Regions from separate parts of the Homo sapiens genome. Here regions 1, 3 and 4 are each linked to region 2. Evidence: fine-mapped expression QTL. A gene starts in region 2. Each other region holds a variant in brackets. All regions are shown on one strand. Distances are from middle to middle.

Region 1 (7,651 bases), 45 kb after region 2:
TCCCTTTCCCTGTTAGGTCTTGCTGTGTCTCTCTGCTGCAGAACCCAGTGGATGGGCTCACTACCTCTGTGAGTCCCCACATGAAATGTGCAGTGGAAGCTGCCAATTCCTCTGGGCCCTGCAAAAGCTGTCGTTCTGAAATGAGTCTCGTTGTAGGTGGAATCGTCCCAAGAAGCCAATGCTGAGGTGATGCGAGAGATGACCAAGAAGCTGTACAGCCAGTATGAGGAGAAGCTGCAGGAAGAACAGAGGAAGCACAGTGCTGAGAAGGAGGCTCTTTTGGTGTGTGTGTTGTAGCTGCCGATGTAAACTTACCGGGAATTGTTGGTTCATTATTGTTGGTGATGTATACGTAGTAGTGTTTATTCTTAGAGGTGGGTCAGTAGACTCAGCCATGGGTAAGGGATCAAGGAATTATTCATCTGCTCATTCACTCCCCTCCCCTCTTCCCCTCTGCCTTTATTCATCCCCGTCTCTACTCAGAATAGCCCCTTGTCTCTGTCTCTAAATACACACCTTTTTCTAGCTCATCTGACAATTTGCCAGCATCTAAGCAAACCCTGGGCTTGCCCGCAGCTGTGCCCTCCCTCCCTCCATTTGGTTCTCTCTACCTGAAATTTCCTCCTTCCCTATCTTTGATCTTGCCTAAGCTCCCTAAAAGCCTTAAATGCCACTCTCTCCATGCCTGGAGTCTCTTCCAGTCATGGAGCCAGAACCATTATCTGTCCTTAGGAAGCTCACTCACTCTCTCTCTGCTTTTACTTTGGAATTCTTTTATACCTGCCATTAGAGTGGGGCTGTGCGTCTCACATCTTGGCTTTTCCAGGAGATTATAAGTTCCTGAAGGCGGGGACTCCATGTCTGGCTCATCTGTGTCCGTAGAGGCTTAATACATGTTCTGATGATTGACTGGGTTTTCTTGTTAGTAATGAGCTGATGTATTGCATTATGGGAGAAGGATCTGGGAATTCTGCATTCAATTCCAGATCTGGTTCTAATTCCCTTACACTTCTGGCAAATACAGTGACATTCTGAGCATCTACTCAATGTTATTAAACATTTGTAGGCCTCTTTTACACCTTTTGGATATAAAGACTTAAGGGAAAAAAGGGAAAAAAATGTAGTGAGGCCCATTAACCAGCCACATGATGTATCTTTATTCATAGGTGAGAACCAGAACCGTGAGGTTGAGTTCATGATCTGTGAGACACTTTCAGGTTCCAAGGTCATGTTTTAAAGAGAAATCGTGATCTAGCAAGGCCTGAGCTGATTGGATCCCGGTGAGTAGCCTCGGTACTCCATGCCTGTACTTAGGAGGGTATATTTCTTTTGCAGGAAGAAACCAATAGTTTTCTGAAAGCGATTGAAGAAGCCAATAAAAAGATGCAAGCAGCAGAGATCAGCCTAGAGGAGAAAGACCAGAGGATCGGGGAGCTGGACAGGCTGATTGAGCGCATGGAAAAGGTAGGACACAGCGTTGGGCCTATTGCCCACTTGCCCAAACTTTTCCCTGTAGGTCCATCTGAGATACGAGAGGCCCTGGATATGGATTCCTCTCACCTCCAAAATTTGCAATTAAAAAAAAAAAGACAAAGCTATAAAATAAAGTATAAGGAAGTCCAACAACGTTCTCATTTTTCCCATGATAACTATTTTGATGCTTTTAAAAAATATTACTTGTGAAATTCTTTAGAAAAATTAATATTTTAGCAGCCTTGCTTTGCTGGTGCCCCAGGTGTGAACTTAGTTTATCCATTGAATTATCAAGCCCTATTTAGGTGTTACATCAACACAGCAGCCCTGTTGTTTCTGGGGCATGTGTCTCAAGGGTTGGCTTTTCCTTGACACGCTGGGGACTTGAGAGAGTAGGGAGGCCCCATTTCTCTAGGTGTTGTAAGCAGGCTGGTGAGTGTGGTGGGGGAACCTGAGGAAGGCGGGAGCTCAGCTGGGATAATGAAGCCTGTCTAGTGAAAGGGAAGAGGCCAGGAATTAAGTAGGAAGTGGAGGAAGGGGAGGAAGTGGTGGGAGAAAGGAAAGAGGAAAAGAAGGAAGAGAAGGAAGAGAAAGGATGGGTGACCTTTAGCAGGTGACGGCTGACTTCTGGACCCAGGAGTTCAGGGCCAAGTCTGTGGCTG[G/C]TTTCTGGGAATGGCTCCCTGGCTGCATATGAGTTTGCAGAGAGCAGTGACCTGCCAAGACCCTGACATTATTAGCACCCTGTGACTCATTCGGGATGCCAAGAATCTCCAATCTGATGATGGAGGCAGAGGTGGGGCAGCAAGAGCAAGGTCACTGTCAGGCTTCATGTGATGCTGAGAAGAGGTCGCCTTAGCTAATGGTGTTTGCAGCATAAGCCCCTGTACTGTCCCCTCATAAGGCGAGGTGTCGCCACTATGGGAACTGCATGAAATTCAGTTCTGTGGAGCTTCAGAGCTCACTGGGTGCTTCGTTTTAGCTCTTTAGCTTTTTACTTGGGAGAGACTTGGGCAAACTAAAGAGTCAATTACAATCTCCCTTCTACCCCCTGGGAAAACAGAATCCCATCTTTTATTGAAGAGTAGGTGATTGGCTTAGTCAGGACTAACATTAGTATTGACCAGAGGGGGTGGTGGTGAAGATTGGGCAACAAGGGAGCTTTCTAGAGCTTGAGTGAGCTTCCTCCCACATTATTGTCCTCCTACAACAGCAGAAGATCCCAGTTAACTCAGATGCTCTCTCTCTGGGCAGCAGGTTTTTCTGCAGCGTAAAGAAGCAAGGTGAGCCGGCAGCATAGCAGGGTGGTCTGGGGGAGATGCCGTCATACAGAGAAACCACAGGTAGTGGTCATGAACATAGGCTTTAGAATCAGACAGTCTGGGGATTTGAATCTTGTGTCTCTTTGTAGTTGTTTGCACTTACTTGGTTTTTCCTAACTCAGTCTCCACTTCTGTAAAATGCTGATAATGGTACTTCTTATTCTTAGGGCTTTTGTGAGCAATAAATGAGAAAAATCCACGCCAAGTGCTAAGCATGGTTCCTCGTATATAGTAAGGGTTCGATCATTTGTGGCTATGATTTTTACTCTGTTACGAGGTTGCCTAAATGTCTACCCTCAGAGTCAGGTTGTCTTTAGCACGACCCATTTTATGCTTATCTTCATTGCTGTCTTGAGGTTCTGAAAGTTTCTTGTCTTTCCCCACTGATTTTCACATGGAGCCCTCATGTGGGATGAATGGGTAGAGCCAGGAAGCTGGTAAGGCCAGCCCTCCCTGCCAGCATTTAGGAAACACAAAACCTTCCCCAAGTGGTGTTGGCTTCTTCTTTAGTGATTGGAAATGTATTGTCCTTTCTCTAAATCTTCCTTTCCATTTAGGCTAGAGAAATGCTCTATTTATTGAACTAACATTAGGTAGGCCAATTTACACTGTTTCCTTTTCAGGGATAAATCTGTGAGAGCAGGAATCTGGCCAAATCGCTGTCTCACACTACGTGAACGGCATGTCCTAGGCAGGGCTGTGGCAGTGTACGTATCCTGCTCTCAGTTTTGGATTTTGCTCAAGGACAAACCATGTGCTTTTGAATGGCTTCTCTGCCATATGCCTTAGTTTACTGTTTCTCTTGCTGAGCACTGTATTTCAAACACCTTTTTTTCTGATCAGTAAAAATCTTTTAAGGAGTGTTCTCTACCAGGGACCCTTCTGGGGAACAGATAATAGTCTATGCCATAATCTGGGCAGTGGTTTCACAGGTGTTTACAAATGTAAGAAATAATTGTGCAGTGTACACTTAAGATTTATTGTACCTCAATTTAAAACAAATTTTAAAAGTGTGCTGTAAGTTAGACCTTGCTCTACTTTATGACAGCCTTTTTCTTTCTTGTTTTTTGTTTTTTTTTTCTTTTTGGAGGGAGGCATTCACTTGTGAAAGCTTTTATCACTGTTATTTCGGGGCTAATGTAAAACTTCCAACCACATAGGGGCAGGAGGAATGTTCTGCTCAGGCCAGGCCATAAGAATGTGCATTTGCTGTAGAGATTTAAAAACAGTAACAAAACCCCAGTCAAAGTTGATCTACCTTTGTTATTTTAAATATTTCAGAGATAATATATTCTTCCTGCTTAAGGTGGACTGCTTCCCCACCCCTTTGGCCTACCTCTTGGTATACCACTGCTTATAGCTTCAGAAGTTGTGGCAGTTAAATTTTCAAAGATTTGCTTTTAATAATTTGGTAGAAAAGAGGTTTGGAATCTATGTAGCTAGTAAGAGTTTGCTGGGTGGAATTTCCGAACATAAAGATGAGGAACATTAGTTCTTAGAGAAGGACCTAAAGTAAAATAATCTCCCAATTAGTGAGCGTTATTTGATAAACTTGCATTTTAAGGAAATTTGTTACACTAACATCTGTAATGTATTTTTAGCACAATTTCGGTTATGACAGGCACCATGTTTTTATGAACATTTTTCAGCTTTGTCCAAAGAAATGATTCCAGACTCTTTTTTGGGCAAACTTCTAAATATACATATATATAGCAAAGTGTACAAAGTGCACGGCTTAGTGCGCGTATGTTTCCTATTGCTACCATAGCAAATTTCCACAAGGTTAGTGGCTTAAAACAACACAAATGTATTATGTTCCATTCCTAGAGGTCAGAAGTGCTAAAATCCAGGTGTTGGCAGAGCTGGATTCCTTTTGGAAGCTCTAGAAGGGAATGCATTTCCCTGCCTTCTCTAACTTCTGGAGGCCACCTGTACTCCTCAACTTGTGGCCCCCTCCTGCAGCTTCAGAGGCAGTAGCAGAGCATCTTCCAGGCTCCTTCTCTCTGATTCTAACCCTGCTGCCTCCTCCTCCTTAGAAGGGCCCAACTGGATAACCCAGGATCTCCCCATTTTAAGATCTTTAACTTAATCACATCTGCAGAATTCCTTTCTCCATGTAAGATAACACATAGGATTCAGGAATCAGGACATGGACATCTTTGGAGGGCCATGAATCTGACCACAACATATTTTTACAAGTGAATACACCTGTGTAAACACCACAAGTTAGAATATAGGATATTGCCAGAATCCCAGAGCCTCTTTTCTTGATGATTCAGAAAATAATAAAGAATTTTGCAGTATCACAAGCCACCAGTTTAAAGTATTGATAATCAGTATTTGGGGCTATAAATTTTCACTGATCCTGGGCTGATGGAATACTTTGGAAAATGAATCTTGAATGGTTTTATTTAGGATGTTTTGTCTCTGACCCATAAATATATCTATAAATACACAACAACAGACTTGGCAGTTTTGAGCCTTGTTTGGGCTTTGCTGAGCAGGTGTGTAAAACCCAGGGGGTGTCATATAGACTTGGACTCCCTAGTGCTAGAATTGCTAAATAGACATTCTCTGTCAAACTTGGGATCCATTGATTAAAATATCAGTTTCTGTTTGTTTTAGGAACGTCATCAACTGCAACTTCAACTCCTAGAACATGAAACAGAAATGTCTGGGGAGTTAACTGATTCTGACAAGGAAAGGTAAGACGTAATGCCTTTCGTCTTGTAATGGATTTAGGTTGTGGACACGCTGTGTTTTTATGACCTCATTTGACCCTTACATTTTCATTTGTGTGGTTGTACCTTATTACAGACTTAAGCATACATAACATTGGGCTGAGAGTTTCCAATATGGAACAAGTTTCTTTGGAAGCCTCCAGCCACATCCTGCAGATCATGGCTGGTTGTTAGTGTAGTGGAACACATCAAATACTTTCACAAGTGCAAAAGTTTGGTCTATTAATGTTCTCCATGGCCTTGAACTCCACAGGATACACCTTGTTGATGAGAAAACTCATCAGCTGTGACTAATACCACTTGCTTTGGAAACCAATTTAAAACATCTTTCTTTGTTTCCAAACTTTGCTTAGTAAAACCTTGCATTATCCTCTGGCAGTGAGTATATAAAGCCCTACATGAAAAACACGGAATAGTACGCTGTCTGTTCTAGAAATCAAAATGCAGAGAGGCCATTCAGGGGTCTCTAGTGAAGGAAAACAAGGTTGAGATGATTTGAGTGTTTTGGGCAAGTGACTTAACCTCCCTGAGTCTTGCTTGTGCCACATGGAAATTCATCTTTAAACGGGGGAGACGGGTATGACGGTGATAACAGTGCCCATCTCACTAGGTTACTGTTGTTAAGAGAACTATTGGGCTTGCTGCCTGCCAAATAGTACGTGCTGAAAAAATACCCATTTTTCCTTCCTCATTTGCAATTTCAGAGTTTTCAAAGTTACAGGAGGCTTGCTAGTCATTAACATAGTGCTGAGGCAGAGATGGGGCACGGGAACTAGACCACCAGACCTTTCCTCCAGTGCCCAGCCCCAGCGGCCCCAGAGAACTGAAGAGTCCAAGCAATGTTGGAGAATAAATTGTGCTGTTGTAAAACAAAAGTATGAAATGTTTTGTGATGTGGCTTGCTCTGTTTGGATGTAGAGAAGGTCTTTCAACTTGTCCCACATTTGCCAAAAATAAAGGATATGTAGAGCAACTGTGATTCCAGACCTTTTGGTATTCTGCCGTTGATTTCAGATATTTTATTGTGTTGCTGGACCCCTTCTTCCCCGTCCTCCCCTCCAAGTAATTTACTGGATGTTCCAATATGTTAATAACCCCAAAACAGAGAGCTTCTCAGATCTGTAAATGGTGCAAAAAAATTATCTCTCAGCCCCTGGAAAATAATCATCCTTATATGGGATAAAACTTGCAAATGGGAACTTGAAAAATAGTCCTGTGCTCCTCTGTTGTGGTAGTTTGTTAGTAATCACACTACTTTGTGTGGTCATCACATAAAGTAAGAAGAATGGATCTTAGAGTTTGATTTCTTGTTCTTGGAAGCATTTTTAAATGTTTTTAAATTTACGTTTATTTTTTTACCAAACCTTCCCCAAAAGATACATGTTTTCTATTTTTATTTATTTATTTTTTTTTTTTGTGGAGATGAGGGTCTCAGCATATTGCCCAGGCTGGTCTCAAACTCCTGGCCTCAAGCAGTCCTCCTGCCTTGGCCTCTTGAAGTGTTGGGATTACAGGCATGAGCCGCCATGCTTGGCGCTCTTGGCAATATTCTTTAAAGCTGTGACTGTTGCTACTGCTGTTGCTGCTTTGGTTTAGGACTCATTTGCTTTTTTCTCCTATTTGTGTTAGGTATCAGCAGTTGGAGGAGGCATCAGCCAGCCTCCGTGAGCGGATCAGACACCTAGATGACATGGTGCATTGCCAGCAGAAGAAAGTCAAGCAGATGGTCGAGGAGGTAAGCATCTGCAAAAGGTCACAGGCCTGGGATTGCTTCCTGTGGTGGGGAAGCATCCCCAGAACAAGTCTGCCTTGCCCCTCCATTTCCTGTGGCTCACAAGCCGAGGTGCTCAGGCCACTGCCATCTAGGCCCAGAGTGGGATTTCCCCACATGTCCCCCATGGACTGATGACGATGATGCCCCTAAAAGAGGGGTTTCCTCAGGTCAAAGGGTTACAGTTAAGAAAGCTGGAAAGTGCAGTTCATAAGCTCACCCACTGTGAAAGGACAGTGATAGCCTGAGTGGGTACCCACAGCTCAGGGGACCCAAGGGGGTGATGGGCAGGGTGAATTTAGCCCAGGTCCCTGCACTGCCTCCACAGCCGTCTGTCTGTCTCTCTC
Region 2 (7,651 bases):
AGAAAAGAAATACGTAAGGTTTCTGCCTTTGTATCAACATGTTTTCTCCAAGCTCACAGTAGTAGCTACTTGGAAAAGTAAGAGTGCTGCCTTCTTCTAGGTTTTGAGGTTTGTCTCACTGTGTTTAATCTCAGACTTGGGTGAAGTCCCAAGGCTGAGAAAGAAATCACTCATCCTTTATTTCATTCATTTTCTTAGCTGATTCCCCATCCCTCAGGATCTGTAGAGGTATTTGTCGACTATTCACTGGGGTGGCCTACAAAAATCCTCCAGCTTTTGGTTGGTCATGAAGTTCTGTGGATTTTCTGCCTTTTGAATCCATCCCCTCCTTTCTATTCCACTGCCACCGACTGCCCTAGTGCAGAGCCTCTTTACGTCATGGCCACACTTCCAGTGCACTCCAAAGTACTTGCCTTCCAGGCTCTGTCTGCCATCCTTACTCCTTTCTTTGCTGCCTGCCATCTTTCTTCATACAAATCTGATCATATCACTGCACTAATTGCAAAACTTTAAGAGCTCATAATCTGCTATTAAGTCTCAATTTTATTCAAGTCCATTTGCAATCTAACCCCACCCTACTTGTCTCTGGCCATTCCCTCCTGCCCTGAAGTTCAAGCAGAACTGGCTAACATGCATTTCCCACATCCCCCGACCCACTATTTCTTCCAGCTCCTCTGTCTGGAATGCGCTTACCTTTTCCTCCTCATTCTTCGTGTCCAACAACTCCTATGCCACCTTCCCAGGGAAGCCTTCACTGTTCTCTGCCCAAGCAGCTTCCCTCCTGCCTACCATAAGTGCTCTGGACACACCTCAAATCTGGCCCCTATCCCAGTAGAGGAGGTGAATTGTCAAGTATGCAGATGTTGGAGCCATCTTGCCTGGGGTTGAAGCTTAGCTTAACCACTTACTAGTGCTGGAACCAAGGGCAAGTTACTTAACCTCCCTGCCGCTCCATTTTCTCATCTGCAAAGTAAGGGACATAATACTACTTTCCTCACTGAGTTGCTGCGACAGTTAAATGTGTTGATGCATTTTAAGCTTTGTGAACTCAGTAAGTGCCATATAAAAGTGTTAGCTGTCATTTTATTTGCTAAGTGCACATCTCTCTTCCTGGTTTGATTGTGAACTCCTAGAAGACAGGGGCTGTCTTACTCACCTCAGTCCCCAGTGCTCAGTACACAGTAGGTGCTTGGTACATATTTGTTCCATGAATTGGCTTATTATTACTCTGCCAGTTGCCTGTTGGTTCACTGGGTTAACTGGCGAGACAACAGAATGATTTCCAATGAGCTTGTATTCCCCAGGGTGGATCAGCAAGTGGTTCCAGCCCTTGTGTCTAGACAGGCCTATAACTGCTGTGTATCTGGATGACTTGGCTGGGGTTTTGGGTTCCTTTCAGCCTGCCTTTCTTATCTCTAGGCCCCATTCCCTGTTTCTCGGACAACCTGTGAATATGGGGTGTTTCTTGTTCTACTTTATCCAAAGGGGCTTTGTAATGTATTACCCTTGTCCTTGGTTGGAAATGTGTCCTTTTTCTATTGTGAAAGTTTGGTCTGTTTGGCATGCAGAATGGGAGAATATGCCAGGACTTCGGGATGCTGTCGCAGCTGAATGGGAGAGAAAGAAAGAGAAGCTTCAGAGATATAAGAGTGAAGAGGGCATGAAATATCAGGAGGGCCAGAATTGCTTGGGTTCATCTACTGTGTGCTCTTGTCCAGTGATTTAACTCTTGATCATTTGTGCAAGAAATAATGAGTCATTGCTGCTCAGGACTTTGCTGGAGAAAAGGGTCCTATCATAAGCCTCTCAACTAAAGATGCCAATGGAATTTGGAAAGAGTTTAGCAGAAAGCAACAAAGACAATTCAGAAGCAGAGACCTAGAGGATATGAAAGATAATTCTAGGAACTGGGATGGGAGAAGGAGGTAAAATTCAGTAACTGATTACAAGAAAATGAAGGGTGCTTATACAGACATCTGGAATTTTCTACACACCTGTGCTTTAGCAGAGAAATTCAGGACTGCTCTTAGGCCTATGTGGCTATTTCTGTGGATAGAAAAGGATGACAGCTAAGACAGTTTTGTCATAGCTCCCGTTCTCTCCAGCCCAAACACTAGCAACCCCTTCATCACCAATGCTCAGAGGGTCTGGAGTAGATGAGTCATGTTGCAAGGGAATGTGGAGAACTTCTACACCAGACCCTTATCCCTGTTCCCCTCCCATTGGCCCTCTTCCCCACTCTCAGTTCTGTAGACTCCAGAGGACTGCTGACTGGGCAGAAGTTCTCAGCTTTTGATTCCTCTTTTGAAAAGAGTCCATCTTTTTTTAAAAATCATCTTCTCTCAGAAATATTAATGGAAACCAGTGACTGTGACTTCATTTTTTACTTTTTCCTCTCCACTCTAGATCCACTTTTCCATTGATTTCAGTCCTACTTGTCTTCCCATTTTCCTTCTTTCCCACTTTCTGGGCTCCCCACTCTCCTCTCTCTTGCAGTTCCTTATGACCTCAGATTCCTAGTGCTGGCCTATTAGGGAGGAGCTGTGGCATAAGCCAGGGCCTGGCATCTGCCTGGACACACCACCCACAGCCCTTGGCGATTGTCAGCCAGCTTTGGGGAAATGGCCTGGCTGGGACAACCCTGGGGCTCTTGTTGCTTCAGCTGCCAAATTGCTTGGAGTCCCTGGCCCACCCTAGGAGCTGGGTTGGCAAGGATCTTAGTTTCTGTTTTTCATGACCATGAGTGAGTTGAAATCTTACTCTGTAATAACATTTCTTCATTCTTTCCACATTTACTTGCACTACCACACGTCAATTACCTGCTCTAGATATTGGACAGGCAGAGATGTAAACAAGATCCAGCTTCTACACAGAGCTCACAAGCTAGTGAGCTGTCTGCTGCTTTTGTAAAGAAATATAACACCGTGTGAATAGGATGTTAACAATATGAAAAAGACTTGGGTAGATTAGAGGGCTTCGTGGAAGTGGAATGGGAAGGAACCTGTCATGAACAATTTTCTTTTTGGAAGGGATAGGTGGATGGGAGGATGCAGAGAGGAGTGTAGCAGAAAAGCAGAAGGACTTGGGTTAGAAGACTAGATGTGTAGTCTCAGCTGTTCACCAATTAACCTAATGTCTCTGGCCTCAGTTTCCTCATTTGCAAAACAGGGGCGATAACTGTAGCCCACCTTGTGGGGCATTGTGAGAATTGGTTGAGAAAATGCATATAAAGCACTTAGGACACAAGCACAGCTACTGTGAGGATGACGATGAGGATGGTGAAGAACAGGCTGTGCAACTTTGGGAAAGTCACTTGTATACACCGGCCTCAGTTTCCTCATCTACAAAAGGAGTGAGTTCCACAGGATCATCTGTAATTCTGTTTAGCAACATTTTTTTTTCAGCATCTTCCCTGTTGGTGCCATTGGGCATTCAGAGAGGGTCAAGGCCTGGCCTCTGCCCTCCAGAAGGACAGGGTACAGGCACACACATAGATAACTCTAACAGAAGACAGGGTCCCGCGGAGCTGCTAAGTTCCTGAGCATGCGTGTTTGGGGAAGGGGTTTCTGGAGAGCTCCGTGGGGAGGCAGTGCTTGACCTGGGCTTTGAAGACAGAGATTGTGTCTTTCCCTGCTGAAAAACACTTTGTCCTCAAGATAAAGGCCAAATTTCCAGCTAAGCACACAGGTTCCTCATGATGTCCTCAGCTCCCTTCCGCTGCTTCTCCACTGTTTTCCCACTGCACTGTGATACTTCCAATTCTTGAAACATATTTTATACCTTCCCTTGCTTTCCTTCCATCTTTGTGCATGCTAGTTCTTTTGACCTGGGACTCCCTCCTCCCTCTGTTAGGGGACAGCAGAGGGGACAAGCAAGGCACTAGGGTCGGACTGGGGGATTCATATCCTACCTTTGCCACTGAGAGGCCAGTGGGTCGCCTGCTGTGTTGCTCAATCCCTAGGTGAGTCAGCGTCTTCATCTGCAAAATGGGGATACAAGGTAACAACAGTGACTCCCTCAAAGGGCAATGGTGAGGATTAAATGAGGTAACACACGCAAAGTGCTCGCCAGGCAGGCCCACAGTAATCATTGAATAAATATGGGCAGTGTGGCCCACTCCTACTTGCATTTCAGGTCTTAGCTTAGTCATCACCTCCTCTGAGGTTGGCTGTGTGCTCCCTTAGTACATGGTATCTCCTCTTCTACCACAGCCCGGCACCTGTCATCCCCACCACACTGCAAACTCTCCGAGGCCAACAGCCAGTCGACTGGGTTGGCTGCTGGTGGGGACGCATAATAGGCATTCAGGAAATACTGAATGAATGACATGGGGTGAGGGTCCCAGTGATACGAGGGCGTGCAGAGGCTGTAGGGGGCAGTCCGGGGTGGGGGTAGGTCGTGAGACTGAATGGGCAGGTGGATCTCAACTCTGCGGGGGACAGAGAGAGCATGGGCGTCCAGGCTGTCCAGGGCTCCTTCTTGCCCTGGGACTGACCCTGGGAGGGCGCAGCGCCCTGGGAGAGGATGGTGCTCAACTTTAACCGGGTCGGCGCCCTCGGGAGAAAATGCAGCCTGACGGGTCGGGTGAGCGCGCTCGGCCCCGCCCCGGCCCGGCCCGGCCCCGCCCCCGGCCCCACCCCCGGGCCTTCGCGGTGCAGCTGAGGCTGCAAGTAGCCGGCGCCGTCCCGCGTCGCCCCCGCGCAGGGCGGGCCCCGCACGCTTATTCTGCCCGGGAGGAACGCCGGCGTCCAGCCCGCTACCGACCGCCGCTGCGGGATGCTGCGCTCCACGTCCACGGTCACCCTGCTCTCGGGCGGCGCCGCCAGGACGCCCGGGGCGCCCAGCAGGAGGGTGAGTAGCGGGGGCGGGAGCCGCCGCCGTCCCGTTCCCCCATCCCGGCCGCCCCCTCTAGAGGGGACTAGGGATGGGAAAGCTCGGGAGCCAGCACCTGGCCCCGACGCCCCACCCTGGGCTCAACTCCCCGGTCCTGTGCCGGCTCTGGCAGTGACCCTCCCGCTTGAGGTTTCAGGGGGCCCACCAGCTGGTAGGAGAGGGCTTAGGGGACTTTATGGAATTCCCAGAGATTTCCTCTCCTTCCTGCCTTTCTGTCAAGCCGAGTTTATTGGCGGCACCAGTTTAAAAATGAAGGAAGACATTTGTGCAGTGTCCCTACCTTGAGACTCAAAAGTAATGAATGTATTTAAAACTCAAACTTTCCTTCTTCCATTAATTAAAAGAAAGATGGGGTCACTTGTGTCCACTAGTGATAGGGTATCCACTAGTGATAGGGTAATTCTGGAGTGGGGTTAGCCAAGGTGGGCAAACCAGAACAGCAGCCGGCCGCCCAGGAGCCCGACTGTGTGGGACTCCGGTTTATGTAAACCACTTTCTTCTGTCTGATTTAAATATTAGCACAGTGACAACAATGGCAGCACTGAAAGCTTGGGACAGCATCTCCAGGGAAGGTTTCCCTTTGGAAGTGCTGTTTCTTTTTGATCTTTGTGGCATCTTTTCCCATCTCTCCAGATGCTCTGTAAAAGAAATGCTCCATCTTTCTAACACGGTCAGCACCTTAGAGCCACAGCCAGGGGCTTGGCTTGTGGCTTTTTAGTTCTTCCATTTATCATGATGTTCAATACTTATCATTTGGTACCTCTTTGCTCTGATTGAGACTTCTGTAATCGTGTTTCCTCAAGATTTAAACAGGTGGTTAAGTCCAAAGCAAAACCCCCACTGGTTCTGTCTGCGTGCAGGCTTGGACCTGCTTATTTGCTTTTACATGCCTTAAGCGAGTGATGGTGGTCACCTTATAAGCTGTCTTTCTTAGCTCTAGAAGAAAGGTGTGTTACTCTTGGGCATGGGCCAACTGATGGATTCTGGGGTGTGTGTGTGCGTGCACTCACCAGACACTTAGGTTGTGTACACAGGCGCACACACACACACACACACACACACACCCCAGAATCCATCAGTTGGCTCATGCCCAAGGTTGACAGAACTCCAGTTGTCCAATCATTAGCATCATAGAGTAAGATCTACATTGGGTCCAAGGGGGTTTCCAACCACAGTCCTGGCCTTACTCTAAGTTGGGTGTTTGTATTTTTCTATGGAAATCTTTCTCAATTTGAACACAATTGCAACTGAGAAAGAATGAAGTCACTGAAAAGCTAACCCTGAGCCCTGAGAGGATCATATGTGTGACCAGACTGCATGAATTGCATGAAATTCTCTGTAACTTCCCTTCCAGAGGTGGGGATTAGTTGGGGTACCTAACCTAATACGGTGGGTTGATACAAATGTGACTAGTATACAAATAACATTTCTGAAGATTTTGGGTCAAACGTTTCCTTTGGAATATTTATTTAATTATAGGTGCTTTGCTGTCGGACACATTGTGACACTCTTGAAAAGACTTTGCCTTTTGAATAAGATGGCAGACGTATTTTGGACTGGAGAACTCAGGGCTCGGGATCAGGCCATTCAGGGCTGTCCTGGGTACACTGGTACTTGTTTCTGGAAGGAAGGTATCTAAAGGGTCTAGGGTTCTGCCCATCTTTATGGTTTCTAGCTCTGCTCATGATTTGCAGATGTTACAAGTACTATCTGTGTGTGTGCTGGGGATTGTGTGTGTGGTGGGAAGCTGTGAGATGTTGATTAATTGATTTATTGAACATTCATAAACCTTTCTCTGTGTGGTAAAGGGCTGGCATTGGGGTCCGCCCTACCTGTAGAGGCAGACATTTTCCCAAACTAACATCAAACAAAGTGGTGATGGTTATAGTGGGGTGAAGAGTTTACAAAGTTCTGTAGAAGCTAAAATAAAGGTTCTTCCTGAGGCATCAGGGGAAGGCCTCTCACTAAAGGTATGTTTTTTTGAGATGGAGTCTCACTTTGTCATCCAGGCTGGAGTGCCATGGCACGATCTCGGCTCACTGCAGCCTCCACCTCCCAGGTTCAAGCAGTCCTCCTGCCTCAGCCTTCCGAGTAGCTGGGACTACAGGCGCACACCACCATGCTTGGCTAATTTTTGTATTTTTAGTGGAGACAGGGTTTTGTCATCTTGGCCAGCCTGGTCTTGAACTCCTGACCTCAAGTGATACAACTGCCTCGGCCTCCCAAAGTGCTGGGATTATAGGCATGAGCCACCCAGCCCCGCCTACTGGTGATGTTTGAGTTTAATCTTGCAGGATGAGTAGAATTTGTAGGGGAATTGACATTATTGGGATACTGAAAGGAGGAAATAACCATCTCAATGGAATACTTGGCATATATAATCATGTACTGCATAACCACATTTTGGTCAACAGTAGCCAGGATATATGACGGTGGTTGGAATGGTAGGCTATCTCATATCGCCTAGGTGTGTGGTAGGCTATACCATCTAGGTTTGTGTAAGTGCACTCTATGATGATTACGCAACGACAAAAATCATCAAATGATGCATTTCTCAGAGTGCATCTCCACGGTTAAGTGACACATGACTACTTTATCATGATGGCAAATTGGACCTGCTTTGGGACAAAATACCTATTGTTTAGAAAAGCAGGAACGGGATGTCCTGAAAGTAAAATTGTAGACCAAATAATCATTGGAAGTGTACCTTTCATTGAAAGTTGTTCAGCAAATACTGTATTGTTCTGTTATTCCTCTC
Region 3 (7,651 bases), 37 kb after region 2:
TGTGGGAAAGAAGGGCAGTTACAACAGTCATGCATCAGAGTTCAATTTATGGCTGGGCTGTGAGATTAAGTGCTTAAGTAACACCTAGTACCTTGATTATAGGAGTGGGGCTACGTAAATATATCTCCCTACCCCATTTCTTGATTATAGGAGTGGGGCTATGTAAATTTATCTACCTAGCCCCTTCCTTGATTATAGGAATGGGGCTGTATAAACATATCTACCCAGCCCATTCCCACTGGCATGTGGGAGGACATTTGTGAAATTCTCACCTGCTTATGGAAAGTCATTCTGCCATGACTGTCAGACACCAATGACTGTCATCAAAGCCAAAGAATTGGATTTGCAATAGATGCATAAACAAGACTCTGCTCCTCGCTTTCCATCACCATCTCCTACACACCCTCATTTTCTCATGCTAGAATTGTCCCAGAAACCCTGTCTCTCTGCCTACTGGTCTCCTCCTTCTCCAAGTCATCCTACCTACTGCAGCCAGATTAAGATTGCTAAATTATTGCTATTGAAACACACTGCTGAACACAAAGCTGCCACATGCTCCTGGGCCTGGCTTGCTGCTTCAATTCTGTCTCCACTCCCCAGAGTGCACCTCCTGCTCTGCTGTGCCGGGGCTGCTTTCTGCTGCTCCCAGAGGCCACATGGGGGGCCTTCCACCCTCAGTCCTAACTGTATCTAGCCTCTTACCAATATCTAGGTCAAGAATGGCTTCTGACTCAGACATGTTAAACACACACACCCAACAAAGACAGCAGCAACAACAGCAGCAACAAAACAACTCTTTTTTTTTTTTTTTAAATGAGACGGAGTTTCGCTGTTGTCACCCAGGCTGGAGTGCAATGGCGCCATCTCAGCTCACTGCAACCTTGGCTCACTGCAACCTCAGCCTCCGGGGTTCAAGCGATTCGCCTGCCTCAGCCTTCCACGAAGCTGGGATTACAAGCGTGCGTCACCATGCCTGGCTAATTTTTGTATTTTTAGTAGAGATGGAGTTTCACCACGTTGGCCAGGCTGGTCTCGAACTCTTGACCTCAGGTGATCCGACCGCCTCGGCCTCCCACAGTGCTGGGATTACAAAAACACTCTTGAGAATTGAGTGAGACCAAAGCATATTCTCTCCATGGTGACTACAAAGAACAAGGTGGCTGCAGAAGTTATTTCAACTGGGTTCTAGTTCTAGGAGCGCCACTTCTGAGCTGTTTGACAGTGAGCAAATCACATAACTTCTCTGATTGTTTTCTTCCTTACAAAGGACAACATTCTGACTCCTGCACAGTGTTGTTGAGAGGGCTAAATGAGGGTCTGTGAGTAAACACTATCCAAAGGAAGGTGATTCTTGCCCTTCTCTCTGGATCATGCAGATGTTGACTTTTAATTTAAAGCTTTACTTTAGATATTGTTGAAGTAGATGTGGCTTCTAACAGAAGAAAGTTCCAGCCTAACTGAAGATTGTCGTGAACGTGTAGGGATTGATTTTGTGTGACTGTCTCCTCGATCTGTCCAGGTTTCCCATGCTCAGCAGGAGTATCTGGAGAATCACATCCAAACCCAGTCGTCTGCCCTGGATCGTTTTAATGCCATGAACTCAGCCTTGGCATCAGATTCCATTGGCCTGCAGGTACTCATCTGCTTACTGCTATGACAGGGCAACCCAGCTTAATCAAGAGTGGGGACTGTGCCTTTGCAGAAAAATAAGTCACAGAACATCCTTAGCTCATGATTCAGAATTCTTTAAGCAGAACCACTGTGAAGACTGTGCCCAGAAGACAGTGTAGGAAACTGAAGGAAGCATTTCCAAGCTGAGACTCTAAGGCTTTGTTTTTGCTCTCTGAAAAGGAAATTTAGACCCCGAGTTTAGTGTGAGAGATGTTGCTTGCTTCACCAGATACCCGAGTGGTCCTCAGCATCAGTGCCTAACCCCACACGTCAGCCCTCTTCCTCCAGTCCCAGTGCCACAGGAAGTGCCACCTAATCACAGAATAACACAGACTTCACTAAGGACAATCTGTACTCCTTCATGGCAAGCAATATAAAAAAGGCCTGTAAACACTTTTTTATAATTAGAAATTATTTTGTATCAGAAAGAATCATGGATATTCCACGTCTTGTAGTAGCAGACAGGGAAACAGAAAGACCCGGTATCTTATATTTGTGAAAATGCATGTTGTTATCTCACTTTGAGGCATTGTTTTCTTGGTTGATTTGGTTTACAGGAGCTAACCCTTCAAGTGCTTCCCATTCTTACTCTTACAAGTCCCCTAACATGCAAATTAATTTGAAAATGTTCAAAGCAAAGCATTGTATGTATTTGAAATAGCTTCCCTTGGTCTTCATTTCCAAATGTATGAACAACAGTTTTTACCTCTCCTCCAAATTTATTTGGCTCTTATCTTTTTATCCTCCTCTCAAAAGTTCCAAAACCTATTTCAAATCCTTTCTGGTTCTATATAAGTAATTTTAGATAAATAAATTTTCATGTTGGGATTCTCCACTTCCCCTAATTCTCTGATAACAGTTGGTATGGCAGCAGTGACAACAGCAGGGCTCGGCCACTGTCCTGGAGTGGGTCTGGGTGGCCTCGTGTTTGGGGTCATCTGCGATGCCCATTTCTGGTGGGGCTTCTGAGTCCCACCCTTTTCCTGGCTCTCTTGAGTGTATGCCAGCTTTCCCCTGGCCTCAGGCCAAGCCCCACTGGGTCTGGTTTGCTCAGCAGCCTTTGTTTTCCCTTCCTCCTGTGGTCGGGGGGGCTTGCCAAGGCTCCCTTTCCTCCCCTTTCGGACGCTGTCTCATTCCCAGCCCACCAGCAAGGGCTTTATCTCACCTGAGTTCAGACTTAGTCGGTATTTGTACTACATCTCTGGTTTTTCTTCCCAGAAAGAAAAATATATTTGCCAGTATTTTCTGGCAATTCTTGTGCTTTGCCATCTGGCCAACACTCTGGCATTTACTGCAGAGGTCAGCTGTTTGAGCTGGGCCAGCTCTGACCCAGGCACCTTGACTGATTCCTAGTTATCATGCAGGCTCTTAGTCCTGGACAGCCAAAGGAGCCTTATAGCTAAAACCGCTGAGAGAAACAGAAAGAGAGAGACAAAGAGAGAGGGAGAGGGAGGGGGAGGGGGAGGGGGAGGGGAGGGGAAGGGGGAGGAGGAGGAGGAGGAGAAGGAGAAGGAGAAGCCATCTCACAGCAGGAAACTCAACCTGGTAGAGGAAGAGGGCTGATGCACGGTGTTAGGCACTGATGCTGAGGACCACTCGAGTACCTGGTGGACCGAGTCTGAAGAGAGCTGGCTTCTTCCTTATGCAAGACCCCAGCCTCTTCCACTGGCCCACTCTGTCCACTTTCATTATTATTGACAGGGAGACCAGACCCTTGGTTTGATTCCATAGAATGTCAGAGCTAGAAAGAACTGAGAGGATCTCAGTTTTATGAATAGACAAACTGAGGCCGACAGAGAGAAATGACATGAGCAAGATGCCTACCTAGTGACAGAGCCAGGATTAGAAAAATCCTGGTCTCTTGGACCAGAGTGTAGGTTTTTGTGTGGATACACGAGTAGAATCTGTGAAGCCAGTGGGGCTGGGGGAGTGGGTGGCTGGTCTAGGTGGTTTCTAAAGCCCCTTGAAGCTCAAATGTTCTGTGACTCCATGCTTCCAAATAGCTTCAGTATTTTCTTTAGTATCTAATCACCTCCTTCAGAAATTCTTTTTCTTGATTCAAGTAGGTTTAGGAGTGAAAGGCTTATATTGTCCAAAGTAGAGGCTGAGGAATTGAGGAAGCTTCAGAGACTGATCATCTAGACAAGAGCACAGAGGTGTTAGAAACAGTGCCCAACACCAGGGTTTTCACATCTTCTAATGTGAAATTGTAGATGACTGGGGACACAGTAGAAGATGACTTTCCAACGGCACAGATTCTGTGGAGGCCATTTATCTCTAAGGAGAGTTAACCAAGTAGAAACCAAAGCAGTAAATAGCACCACCATTTTTTTCTTTTTCTTTTTTATTATTTTTTTAGAGATGGGGTCTTGCTCTGTTGCGCAGGCTGGAGTGCAGCAGTGTGATATAGTTCACTGCAGCCTTGACCTCCTAGGCTCAAGTGATCCTCATGCCTCAGCCTCCTGGGTAGCTGGGGCTACAGGTACACACAACCATGTCTAGCTGGTTTTTAAATTTTTTTTGTAGTTGCCCAGGCTAGTCTTGAACTCCAGGCTCAGGTGCTCCTCCCACCTCAGCCTCCCAAAGTGCTGGGATTACAGTCATGAGCCATCACGCATGGCCAACACTATTGATTTAAACATCCTTGCTTCAGTGCGGCCTGGAGCAAAAATTACTTGTGCGGCTTGGAGCAAAAATCACTTGTCTGCATTACCAAATTCTGTTCCTTAGTACTTCTTTATTACTACCCTTCTCTGCCTAAGGGAGGAAGGTGAAATGTTTGCAGGTATGTGAGTATTCTCAGTCACATTGTCACTATCCTGGCAGGCAGTCTAGAAGCGCAGAAGGGATAGCTCTTTTAAGAAAAAAGGGAGGCCGGGCGTGGTGGCTCACGCCTGTAATCCCAGCACTTTGGGAGGCCGAGTCAGGTGGATCACGAGGTCAGGAGTTCGAGACCAGCCTGGCCAATACGGTGAAACCCCATCTCCACTAAAAATACAAAAATTAGCCAGGCGTGGTGGCAGGCGCCTGTAGTCCCAGCTACTCGGGAGGCTGAGGCAGGAGAATCGCTTGAACCTGGGAGGCAGAGGTTGCAGTGAGC[C/T]GAGATCGTGCCACTGCACTCCAGTCTGGGCGACAGAGTAAGGCTCTGTCTCAAAAACAAAAAAAAAAAAAAAAAAAGAAAAAGAATAAAAAGAGGAATATCTCTATTCTATAAAGCTCGTATTTTGTTTTCTGATTTCATTGTGGCAATTTGGGAAATACAGAAAAAATAAATAAGAAAATAGATACCCATAGCCCTATCACATAGTGAAAACTATCATTCAGATTTCCTCCTGGTCTTTTTCCCCCCAGTGCATAAACATATATTTGAACCAATGCTTATACATATTTTTCAAAATGGGATTATACTATACTTACTATTTTCAAAAGCTGTTTTTTTTCCCATGTGAAATGATGTATTATAATACTTTTCCTTGGAAGGACTCCATTTTAATCCATTTCCATCCATCCTAAGCAGTGGCAAGTGGTGTTGGCAGCAGCTATGGGATGGTATGGGAGAGGTTTTCAGTCCCTCCAAGCTACAGGGGCAGACCTCTTGGCCACCATGGGAGACCCACAGTCCCTCACAGCACAGGGTCCCAGACTGGCAGTTGCTGTAGCCTAGGACAGCTACCCCAGTGCTTAATGATAAGGGGATGCCCCAGCATGTGGTGCAGCCCATGTGTTTTCACGCCACCGGATCTGGTTTTGTTTTTATTTTCATCCTCACAGAAAACCCTCGTGGATGTGACTTTGGAAAACAGCAACATTAAGGATCAAATCAGAAATCTGCAGCAGACGTATGAAGCATCCATGGACAAGCTGAGGGAAAAGCAGAGGCAGTTGGAGGTAGCGCAAGTTGAAAACCAGCTGCTAAAAATGAAGGTGGAGTATAAAAGCCTAGATTTATTTTCTATGAACTTTTCTCCTCTTTACTTCTCCCTTTTCTCTTCCCATCTTCAACCTTTCCATTTCCTTTTCTCCATTCTCTTCTTCATTGGATTTTTTTTTTTTTTTGAGACAGAGTCTCACTCTGTCACCCAGGCTGGAGTGCAGTGGTACAATCATGGCTCACTGCAACCTCCGCCTCCTGGGTTCAAGCAATTCTCGTGCCTCAGCCTCCTGAGTAGCTGGAATTACAGGCACGTGCCACCTTGCCCAGTAATTTTTGTATTTTTAGTAGAGAAGGGGTTTCACCATGTTGGCCAGGCTGGTCTCGAACTCCTGACCTCAGGTGATCCGCCTGCCTTGGCCTCCCAAAGTGCTGGGATGACAGGCGTGAGCCACCGTGCTTGGCCCAGTTTGGGGCTTCTCCATAAATGCCCCCATTGGGCATGCCTTTCTTGGCCTCCAGTCCCTTCAAGGGCTCTTTAGACACTCACCATGGTGCTGTTGTTATGTAACTGAGAAGACGCTTGGGATGCCCACAGATCTGGGACGTCAGAAGCCTTGGAGATCTCTTCCTTCACTGTTTAGATTTTCTTTGAGGTCCCAAGGCCTTTCTGTTTGGCTTGACAATAAAGAGCTGAGGGGCACACAAATAGCTGGTACTTGGGCTGTACCCCAAGTACAATATTCTCAAGAAGAAAATTGGTGGGTGACTAGGGACACTGGGGAATGTCCCATTTGGCCCCCTAGGCTGGGAGCATTCCTTAGCTGAACTTCTAATGCCCTAGAGGCATTAGTGCCCCTCCCAAATTTAAACTGTGGATAGACTTCCTACCCGGTGACAGGAGCAGATCCATGAATGGCTCCTGGAGGGCACTTAATAAATTATATCTTGGATGAATTCCTTTTTATGTAAGTCTGTGGTTTGAAAATTTTGCTCAGCACAGACTTAGGCTATCTTATGAGTAGCGTATCCACATAGTTTATTGCTCAAAGCAGAATATGTGAGGGAGTGAAAGGTGGTACTATTGGTAATTTAGTTAGGGAGACAAACTGGGAAGTGTGGGCCCCTTCACAGGGGTAGGCTGGGTGGGGAAGAGGGGCTGCCGGTCCACCGCCCGGTCTCTGTATTGCCGCCCTGGGGATCTGCTGCCAGTTCACTTGGCCTGCCACAGCCATGGGACAGATCATCTCCTCTGTATGTTCACTTCTAATAGGGCAGCTCTTCTTTTCCGTGTAAGAGTTACTTTCTCAGTAAGAGTTACTTGGGGGGTGAAAAAAGTTTATGTTGCTAAAAAAGCCTGAAATTACTGATTTAAGTAATTTTTTTCAGCTTAGGGGATTTATTCAATCATTCAGTCCACAAATATTTATTGAGTGTCTACTCTATGTGTGTGTCCTGTTCAGTCCTGTTGGTTCCAGAGGTGGCCTGTCACCAGGCATCTGGGGACATCATTAGGCTGCTTGGCAATCTGGCTGCTTCCCTGGAGTCCAGGCCTTTAACTCCAGCCCACAGTTGCCTGTTTTAGAGACTGATGCTTGTTTTCATCCTGACAGTGGAGTTAAAAAGGTTTCTCCTACTCCTCCTATTTTACTCCCCAAATTGGGAAAAAAAAAAAAAGCTTCAGGAACTCAGGGTATGTTACATGACCTGGATGCAGAGTGAATGGGCCTCCAGGGACAGAGCCCTTCCAGCAAGCTGTGCGTGCACTGCAAATGGAGCACACAGCACACAGGGTCTCTCTCAGCTGGTCATAAGCTCTGCTCAGGACTTTCCACTTTGGAACTTCTTGGTGCCAACACTTACCCAGTGATGAGAAGGGAGAAGTCAAGGGCGTCAAGAGAGACTTGTCACATCTTGGAAATAACATCATGTAACCTATTGAGTTTGAAGAATGCTTCCCTTTTCCAGAGTTTAGGTATGCAGCAAACTCAGCTCTCTGCAATAGGCGATAACCTGGAAGGAGGGGATGAGAGCAAACCTTCTGCAGCATAAAATCAATGGCGGGAAGTCTGTGTGTGAGAACGTGGCCTGGCAAACAGGAGGCACCAG
Region 4 (7,651 bases), 21 kb before region 2:
AAAACCCTGTTTCTTCTAAAAATACAAAAATTAGCCAGGCATGGTGGCACGCACCTGTAATCCCAGCTACTCAGGAGGCTGAGGCAGGAGAATTGTTTGAACCCGGGAGGCAGAGGTTGCAGTGAGCTGAGATCATGCCACTGCACTCCAGGCTGGTGACAGCAAGACTCCATCTCAACAACAATAAAAAACCTTTATTAACATAATTTACATACCATATTATTCACTCTTTTAAAGTGTAGAATACATGGGCTTTGAATACGTTCACAGAGTTGTGTAACAATCACCACTGTTTAATTTCAGAACATTTTCATTACCCCAAAGAGAAATCCCATACCCACTGTAGCTTCTCATTCTCCCCACCCAAATCCCCCAGCTCCTGGCCACCACTAATCTACTTTCTATCTCTATGAATTTGCCTATTATGGACATTTCATATAAATGGAATCATATGTGGCATTTTATGTCTGACTTCTTTCACTTAGCATAATGTTTTCAAGGTTCATCTATATTGTAGCATGGATCAGCTCTTCATTATTTTTTAAGGCTGAATAGTATTCCATTGTATAAATAGAACACAAACAAAATATAAATTTTGTTTCTTCATCCATCAATTGATGGATATTTGTGTTGTTTCCACATCTTAGCTATTATGAAGAATGCCGCTGTGATCATTTGTGTACAAGTTTTTGTTTGAACATATGTTTTCAATACTCTTAGGTACATTGCAGGCATGGAATTGCTGGGTGATAACGTACCTTGATGTTTAACCTTTTGAGGAACTGTCAAATTGTCTTTCAAAGTGACTATATAACTTTACAATCCCACCTGTCATGTATGAGGGTTTGTTGCATTTTTAATTGCAGTTACCATGAAGTCTGTAAAAGCCAGGCAGTCACAGCCACAGGGCACAATTCCAGAGTGCAGAGGAAGTTTTCCATACAACTCTCACCCTCTTGGCAGGGATACCAGGCCTGCATGTCTCGTGACTGCACATGTTGTTTAGACAATTGTCTCTGTTTGGTGACCCACAGTTTTCGTACTGATATCCGAGTTTTATTGGCATTGCTGACCTATGAGTCTGATGTCTTTGGTGCAGAGCCTCTATCACAGTTTTACCCAGAATCCCATTGCTTTGGACCAATAATAACAACATTCCCTTTGTACAGGTCTTTGCAATTTGCAAAGCACCGTGTTACTTCCCTTTTCTCCAGAGCCTTATGCTCTGCTTTCCAAGGTGTTGGCCTTAGTATAGCAATGTAACCGCTGCTAAGGTGTGTAATGGCCAATAAGATGCTGGCTTTTCCTAAAGAGACTCACTGAGTCCTAATATTTCCCTAGTATAAATGTATCAGTAATGATGAAGATGTCAGGTGCTATGATAGAGCAAAATGGCTTTTGAGGCTCCCTCAAAGCTAGTCTTAGAAGACTCCCCCTCTGTGTGCAGGCCATAAGCTTGGCATCGTTGTAGGAACTTAGTACGGTGTCCAAGCCAGAAGACTTTTCTTTTTGAGACGGAGTCTCGCACTGTCGCCCAGGCTGGAGTGCAGTGGCGCGATCTCAGCTCACTGCAAGCTCCGCCTCCCGGGTTCACGCCATTCTCCTGCCTCAGCCCCACGAGTAGCTGAGACTACAGGCGTCTGCCACCACGCCCAGCTAGTTTTTTTTTTGTATTTTTAGTAGAGACAGGGTTTCACCGCGTTAGCCAGGATGTTCTTGATTTCCTGACCTCGTGATCCGCCCACCTCAGCCTCCCGAAGTGCTGCGATTACAGGCGTGAGCCACCACCCCCGGTCCAAACCAGAAGATTTTTCTACATCTTTCTTCTTATACAAAGATCGTTTGTGAAAAAGCTAAGATTGGTGGCAGGTTTTCAGGAAATTTTCCTTTTTTTTTTTTTTTTTTGCTAGTTTGTGTTCCTAAATAGTGAACATGCAATCGCTAAGTTTTTAAAAGAAGCGAAAAATTGATGGTAGGCCCAGCAGTTAGAAGGCCCTGGGGTTACAGTTCTTCCACAGGGCAGTTGCTGTTTATGAGTGTTCTTTCTTATCTGTAAACCCGTTCTCTATGCCTGAGAGAACATTCCTTACAGCCATGACTCCTTAAAAAGGATAGCCTTTGCAAAAGATTCTTGTCAAATGTTTTTCATCATCTATAAATCACACACAACTGTTTCCCCCAACATTAGCATCAATGTGTATGCCAGTTTCCTCTGAAAATGTCAAGCATGACTGCTCCTTAGAGAAACCATGTTTCTACCTCTCTTCCTCACCAAAGTTTATAAATTCCCAAGCATTCTCTGTGTTAACATTTTATTGTGTGTCACCTCACCCTGAAAAAAAAAAAAAGATAACTAGATTCTGTGCGTGAACCCCCTTCAAAACTCAACTCCCAGGAGAGCTGTGTGTTTTCTAAGCCTGAGCAGCTCAGAATCCTGGTTCATGAAGGCTTGTGGTCTAAGGGCTGGTTATTTCTTGTTTAAATTCAAATTAATTTCCCAGCTCCAGTGCAAATATATCCTTGCAATACTATACGACACCACTTTCTGGTACAGTCCACCTGCCTGTTTCCTGTGCTGTGTTATATCACTCATAGGAAATTCTAATATTCCAATGAGCAACCAGCCTGGAAAATAAAGCAATTCAAATACCTGGGAATGATGGGCTTATTACCATTGCTCCATTTCCCTGTGATATTTATTCATCAGAGATGAATTGCTTCTTTGTGATTTCAGAGGTCATCTCATCTAGTCCCAGGGAGGACTATGTCTAAACTAACCCAAACTGTGACTGTTCATTAGAGTCTTAAAATTTTATGGCTATAGAAAGATGACATCTTTGACTAAGAATTACTTCCACTGTCTATTTTTTATGAATTTTGGAAGTTCTACTTCAGTATAATCTGAATTTTTTTTGCTGCATTGTCTGTCATTTTGCATGCAATGCAGAAAAAAAAAATTCCACTCTGCATGCTAGAGTGGATCTGGTAACTGAGAATAATAGCCATTATGTATTGAGCACATATTATGTGCCAGAAACCATACATAGTGCTTTACAAGCATTACTTTATTTTATTCTCAAAACAGCCCTATAACGTATGTATTTTTTTTTCAGCCTTTTCCAGATGAGGAAGAAAAGGCCTTGAGACATGAACTAGCTCAGCGAGATGGCATAGTTAGACTTTTGGTTAAACAGGGCAGGTTGACATGCTTGGGTAGTACTGTTCCTTCCTGAAACCCCATGAAAATGACACTGAAGGGATTTTTTAACTTGATAATACAAGAATGATAAAAGAGAATAGGAGAGTAAGCAAGAGCAATGGCATCTGGGAAGCCGGAAGGAGAGGGCAAAGTGTCAATTTAACAGACCAGAAAATGGCACAGCCTATGTGGTTGGGGGTGAAGTTTGAAGTAGGCAGAGTCCTCTGAAAATGGGCACAGGTGGAGCTAAAAATAGGATTTGTTGAAAGTTTGTATATTAAATATTTCAATGTCCCTAGATCCTCTCCCTCCTGCTGCTAGAAGACTAGATATTTCTTCTCTGGAGCTGCCAGCTTTGGGCAGCAGCATAGCTGAGGACAGGGTACCATGCCACATGGGGGATTGAGTGAGTATATGTGCTGAGTGGTGACACCACTGGCCTCCTCCCCAGGCCCAGCTCCAAGAGCACTGGCAGCCAGGTTGATCTCTTCCAAGCAGGAGCCTCGAGGATTCCTTTCTAGGGAAGATGTCTGGCAGCTCAGGCATAGAATTTAAAAGATGTTGAGGGTTGGGAGTACCTTGGTGAAACTGCTCAGTGGTTTACCCTCTGGTGAATTCTATAGTTGATGAATGTCACCCCATCAACTATTGGGTGCCTCACTCTGAAATATGAGCGAACAGTCAAGGGTCATCAG[G/A]CATTTGAGAGAAGTCCTTAATATCAAAGACATAGACAAAAACAAAAACAAAAACAAACAAAACAAAACAAGGAACTAGGGATGAAACAAGCAATCTGGGCAGCAGCAAGAAACCTGTACCATAGCAACAACAACAAAGTCCTGTGATTGATTCATCTTCAGAGATTACATAGACAAGCACAAGAGGTTAGCATAGCAGAGAACCAAAATGATCCTTGGAACTTCAAAGTTGAGAGCAGAAAGAAAAACTAAATTTAATGGTTAGAAAATGAGGTTAATTGAAGTAATTATCCAGAAAGTTGAGTAATAACATAAATGAGGTGAAAAACAGGAGAGAAAACATAATAAAATTAGAGGATCAGTCCAAGGAGTTCCATAGACTAGGAACAGAGAATATGGAAGGGAGAAGGACGCAATTCAAGAAATTTCTCCATTTCTGAAAGACGTGAATCTATAGATATGTAAAAGGTCCACAGAGTGCCAAGCACAATGCATGAAAAACACCCACAACAATGCATGTGCCCAGCCCCCACTTATCCCTGGGAAATGTGTCCCAAGACCCCCAGTGGTGGCCTGAAACCTCGGATAGTACCTGCTGTAGTTTGGAGGTTTGACCATGCCAAACCTCATGTTGAAATTTGATCCCCAATGCTGGAGGTGGAGCCTATGGGAGATGTTTGGGTCATGGGGACAGATTACCCATGTACAGATTAATGCCCTTTCTTGGGGGTGAGTGAGTTCTTACACTATTAGTTCCTAATTGAACTGGTTGTGAAAAACAGCCTGGCACCTCCCCTCCTCTCTCTTGATTCCTCTTTCGCTGTGTGATCTCTGCACATGCTGGCTCCCCTTCACCTTCTGTCATGAGTGGAAGCAGCCTGAGGCCCTCAGCAGAAGCAGATGCTGGTGCCATGCTTGTACAGCCTACAGAACCGTGAGCCAAACAGGCTTATTTTATTCATAAATTAACCAACCTGAGGTATTACATTATGGCAACACAAAATGAACCAAGAGAGTACCAAACCCTATATATACAACATTTTCTTTCCTATACATACAAACCTGTGATAAAGTTTAATTTATAAATCAGACACAGTAAGAGATCAACAACAATAATAAAATGGAACAATTATAACAATATGCCAGGATCACTACTCTTGTGCTTTGGGACCATTGCTAAGTAAAATAAGGGTTCCCTGAACACTAGCACTGAGATGTTGCAATAGTTAAATTGATAATGGAGATGGCTACTAGGTGACTAACGAGCAGGTAGCATATAGAGCTGGACAAAGGCATGATTCATATCCTGGGCTGGATGAAGTAGGACAGCTTGAGATTTCATCACGCTACTGAGAATGGCATGCAATTTAAAAATTATGAGTTGTTTATTTCTGGAATTTTTCACTTAATATTTTTGAGCCGTGGTTGACCACAGGTAACAGAAACTGTGGAAACTGTGGATAAGGGGGCACTACTGTAATTATGAAGCTTCAGACCATCAGAGACAAAGATAAGGCCCTAAAATCTGTAGGGGGAGGCAAGGCAAGATCAGGAATCAGGATGGCATCAGACTTCTCAAGAAAAGCAACATTAGATGCCAAAACCCGTGCAGCAATGCCTTCCAAATTCTAAGAGAGAATTACTTCTCTATCCCTAGAATCCTGTACATGTCCAAACTATCAATCAAGACAGTTTCAGAAATACAATGTCTTGAAATCCTTAATTCCTATTTACCCTTGGGTATATTCCTCCAAAATGAGGGAATTATCCAAAAAAAAGGACAGCATGAGATAAAGGAAGCAGGTAACGCATCCCAGGAGATAATGCCCAGAGGACACCCTGGATGATGGCAAGCGAAGCCCCAGGATGGCACCATGGGGCTGCCTGGAGCCCCACCAGTCCAGGCTGGAGCAGGAGTTTAGAGAGCTCTTCCGGGAAGTGGAGGTGGAGGCTGTCTCCAGAAAAAAAATGCTGTTGACATATGACCGGATGAGTTTGGTCATGTGACACACTGTCACTTTTGAAGGAAAGCTAGTGATGACTTAGTGATAAGTATTAATACATAAAAAGCTAAATAAGTGGAGAAAAGGTGATAGTTGTTAGCTTCAGGAAAAACAAAAAGTTGTATACGAAAGAAAATATTACTATAAAATGCACTTCATGGCCTGTGACTGATGATCACGCGGTCATAGAGCATAAGCCGTGATTATTGATTTAAACAAAATTACGATATAGCTGTATTTGAAGAATGAGGGGGCATGTGGGAGGAAGATTTAAGAGACCAAAACCTCAGTTTCCACATGGAGAGTCACTAGATGGGATCTAAAATTTAAACAAAATCCAGATATGGCCATATAAGTGTGTAATTGAAATATATGATGATAAATACCAGAAGAAATAGCTTAAAGAGTTAAAAGTGGCTGTGACTACGCAATGGGGATCAAGGGGCAAGAGGGTGCTAATTTTCATTATAAACTTGTAGAACCACTGGACTTTTAAAACCATGTGTGTGTATAATTTTGTCTTCTTTTCATTAAATGTTGCAAAATCAGCATTTGAACCCAATTCTGGTCTGAATCCAAACCTTATTCTATTATCTCAATTTTGCCTCTCAAAATAATTGCTTAACATTTATTTGCCTTTAGATTTTAATTTTTTTGAGTCAATTTCTGATGTGTGCTGTTGACTCAATAATCTACAAACTCCACATGTGTATGGTCCGTGCTTATTTTGCTGACCATTGGATTCCCAGTGTCCAGTGGAGCATCTGGAAACAGTTAGGCTCTCAAAAAACATTTGTTTGTCATTAGGTCCATTTTCTGAGTCTCTAAATTTCAATTCTTGAATATCCACATCCCTCTTAAAGACTGTTTCTGGGCCAGGTGTGGCGGCTCACACCTGTAACCCCAGCACTTTGGGAGGCCAAGGGAGGCAGATCGCTTGAGCTCAGGAGTTTGAGACCAGCCTGGGCAACATGGTGAAACCCCATCTCTTCAAAGCATACAAAAATTAGTCAGGTGTGGTGATGTGTGCCTGTAGTCCCAGCTACTTGGGAGTCTGAGGCAGAAGGATCATCTGAGCCTGAGGTGGTTGAGGCTGCAGTGAGCCGTGATTGAGCCACTGCACTCCTGCCTGGGCGACAGAGTGAGACCCCATCTCAAAACAAACAAACAAAAACACAACAAAAAAAGACTGTTTCTGTGCTGCACTCAGATGTGAACACCGTAATAGATGCATATGCAGAAGTGAATTGCAGTTGTATGATCCCCTTAGAGCATTCAGGATCTGAATGATGGGAGCTCGCTGCTTAAGACCTTTTGATTTCCCTGAAAAAGATGCCATTCCGGGGCTGTTTTGTCTGCACCATGCAGGCTGCAATTCCCTTGCTGGCTGGCTCCTCTTGGTGAGGTTCTCCTGCAGGCAGTCTGGTCTAGAATTGAATTACACTAGATGTTATCTTATACTTTAACTAAGTGGCTGAAGCGTCCTTTCTTTGCTTCCTCCTTCACTCCTTTTCTCCTTTCATCTTGTCCTTCCTTCAGTCAACACATTTGAGCACCTACTACTTCGTAGGCACAGGGAAGGAGATGTGTGGGGAGAAACCTGAGAAAATAAAAGGTGATTAATATTGTCCTTACCCACAACTAAGTGAGGAAGCTGGCTATCCAATCAGCTTTCCAATGAAAGCGAGGACAGAAGGAAGTAGGAGCTTAACGGTGAAGCCTGGGATGCAGTAACAGGGGTGGGAATGCAGAAG

Which allele goes with the higher level. Positions count from the first base shown, and alleles are read on the strand shown. Sizes are in standard deviations (SD) of each study's normalised expression. Not every link is listed here.
With allele G in place of C in region 1, the expression in skeletal muscle of the gene that starts at base 4,646 in region 2 is higher (large effect, 0.79 SD a copy in GTEx).

The links. PIP is the estimated chance that this variant, and not a neighbour inherited with it, causes the effect. A credible set is the group of variants that fine-mapping cannot tell apart.
Region 1: its variant is fine-mapped to the expression of MYZAP in skeletal muscle (GTEx, PIP above 0.99). The same link has a PIP of 0.9 or more in adrenal gland.
Region 3: its variant is fine-mapped to the expression of MYZAP in whole blood (INTERVAL, PIP above 0.99).
Region 4: its variant is the best candidate, but not a certain one, in a credible set for the expression of MYZAP in whole blood (INTERVAL, PIP 0.81).

What each region holds. Positions count from the first base shown.
Region 1 is chr15:57,632,278-57,639,928 of GRCh38, forward strand. GCOM1 (GCOM1, MYZAP-POLR2M combined locus) reads left to right here. Exons shown (of 17, transcript NR_104371.3): 7 at 157-282; 8 at 1,336-1,464; 9 at 5,418-5,497; 10 at 7,163-7,268. It overlaps MYZAP (myocardial zonula adherens protein), which reads left to right. Exons shown (of 13, transcript NM_001018100.5): 7 at 157-282; 8 at 1,336-1,464; 9 at 5,418-5,497; 10 at 7,163-7,268. Among named protein-coding and RNA genes, the nearest start is that of MYZAP, 44 kb to the left of the region's middle. The variant G/C (reference allele first, on the strand shown) is at 2,136.
Region 2 is chr15:57,587,259-57,594,909 of GRCh38, forward strand. It overlaps MYZAP (myocardial zonula adherens protein), which reads left to right and starts at 4,646. Exons shown (of 13, transcript NM_001018100.5): 1 at 4,646-4,851. The coding sequence starts at 4,777. GCOM1 (GCOM1, MYZAP-POLR2M combined locus) reads left to right here and starts at 4,646. Exons shown (of 17, transcript NR_104371.3): 1 at 4,646-4,851. RefSeq lists a silencer at 4,535-4,644.
Region 3 is chr15:57,624,260-57,631,910 of GRCh38, forward strand. It overlaps GCOM1 (GCOM1, MYZAP-POLR2M combined locus), which reads left to right. Exons shown (of 17, transcript NR_104371.3): 5 at 1,520-1,633; 6 at 5,443-5,595. It overlaps MYZAP (myocardial zonula adherens protein), which reads left to right. Exons shown (of 13, transcript NM_001018100.5): 5 at 1,520-1,633; 6 at 5,443-5,595. Among named protein-coding and RNA genes, the nearest start is that of MYZAP, 36 kb to the left of the region's middle. The variant C/T (reference allele first, on the strand shown) is at 4,772.
Region 4 is chr15:57,566,029-57,573,679 of GRCh38, forward strand. No RefSeq gene overlaps it. Among named protein-coding and RNA genes, the nearest start is that of GCOM1, 22 kb to the right of the region's middle. The variant G/A (reference allele first, on the strand shown) is at 3,895.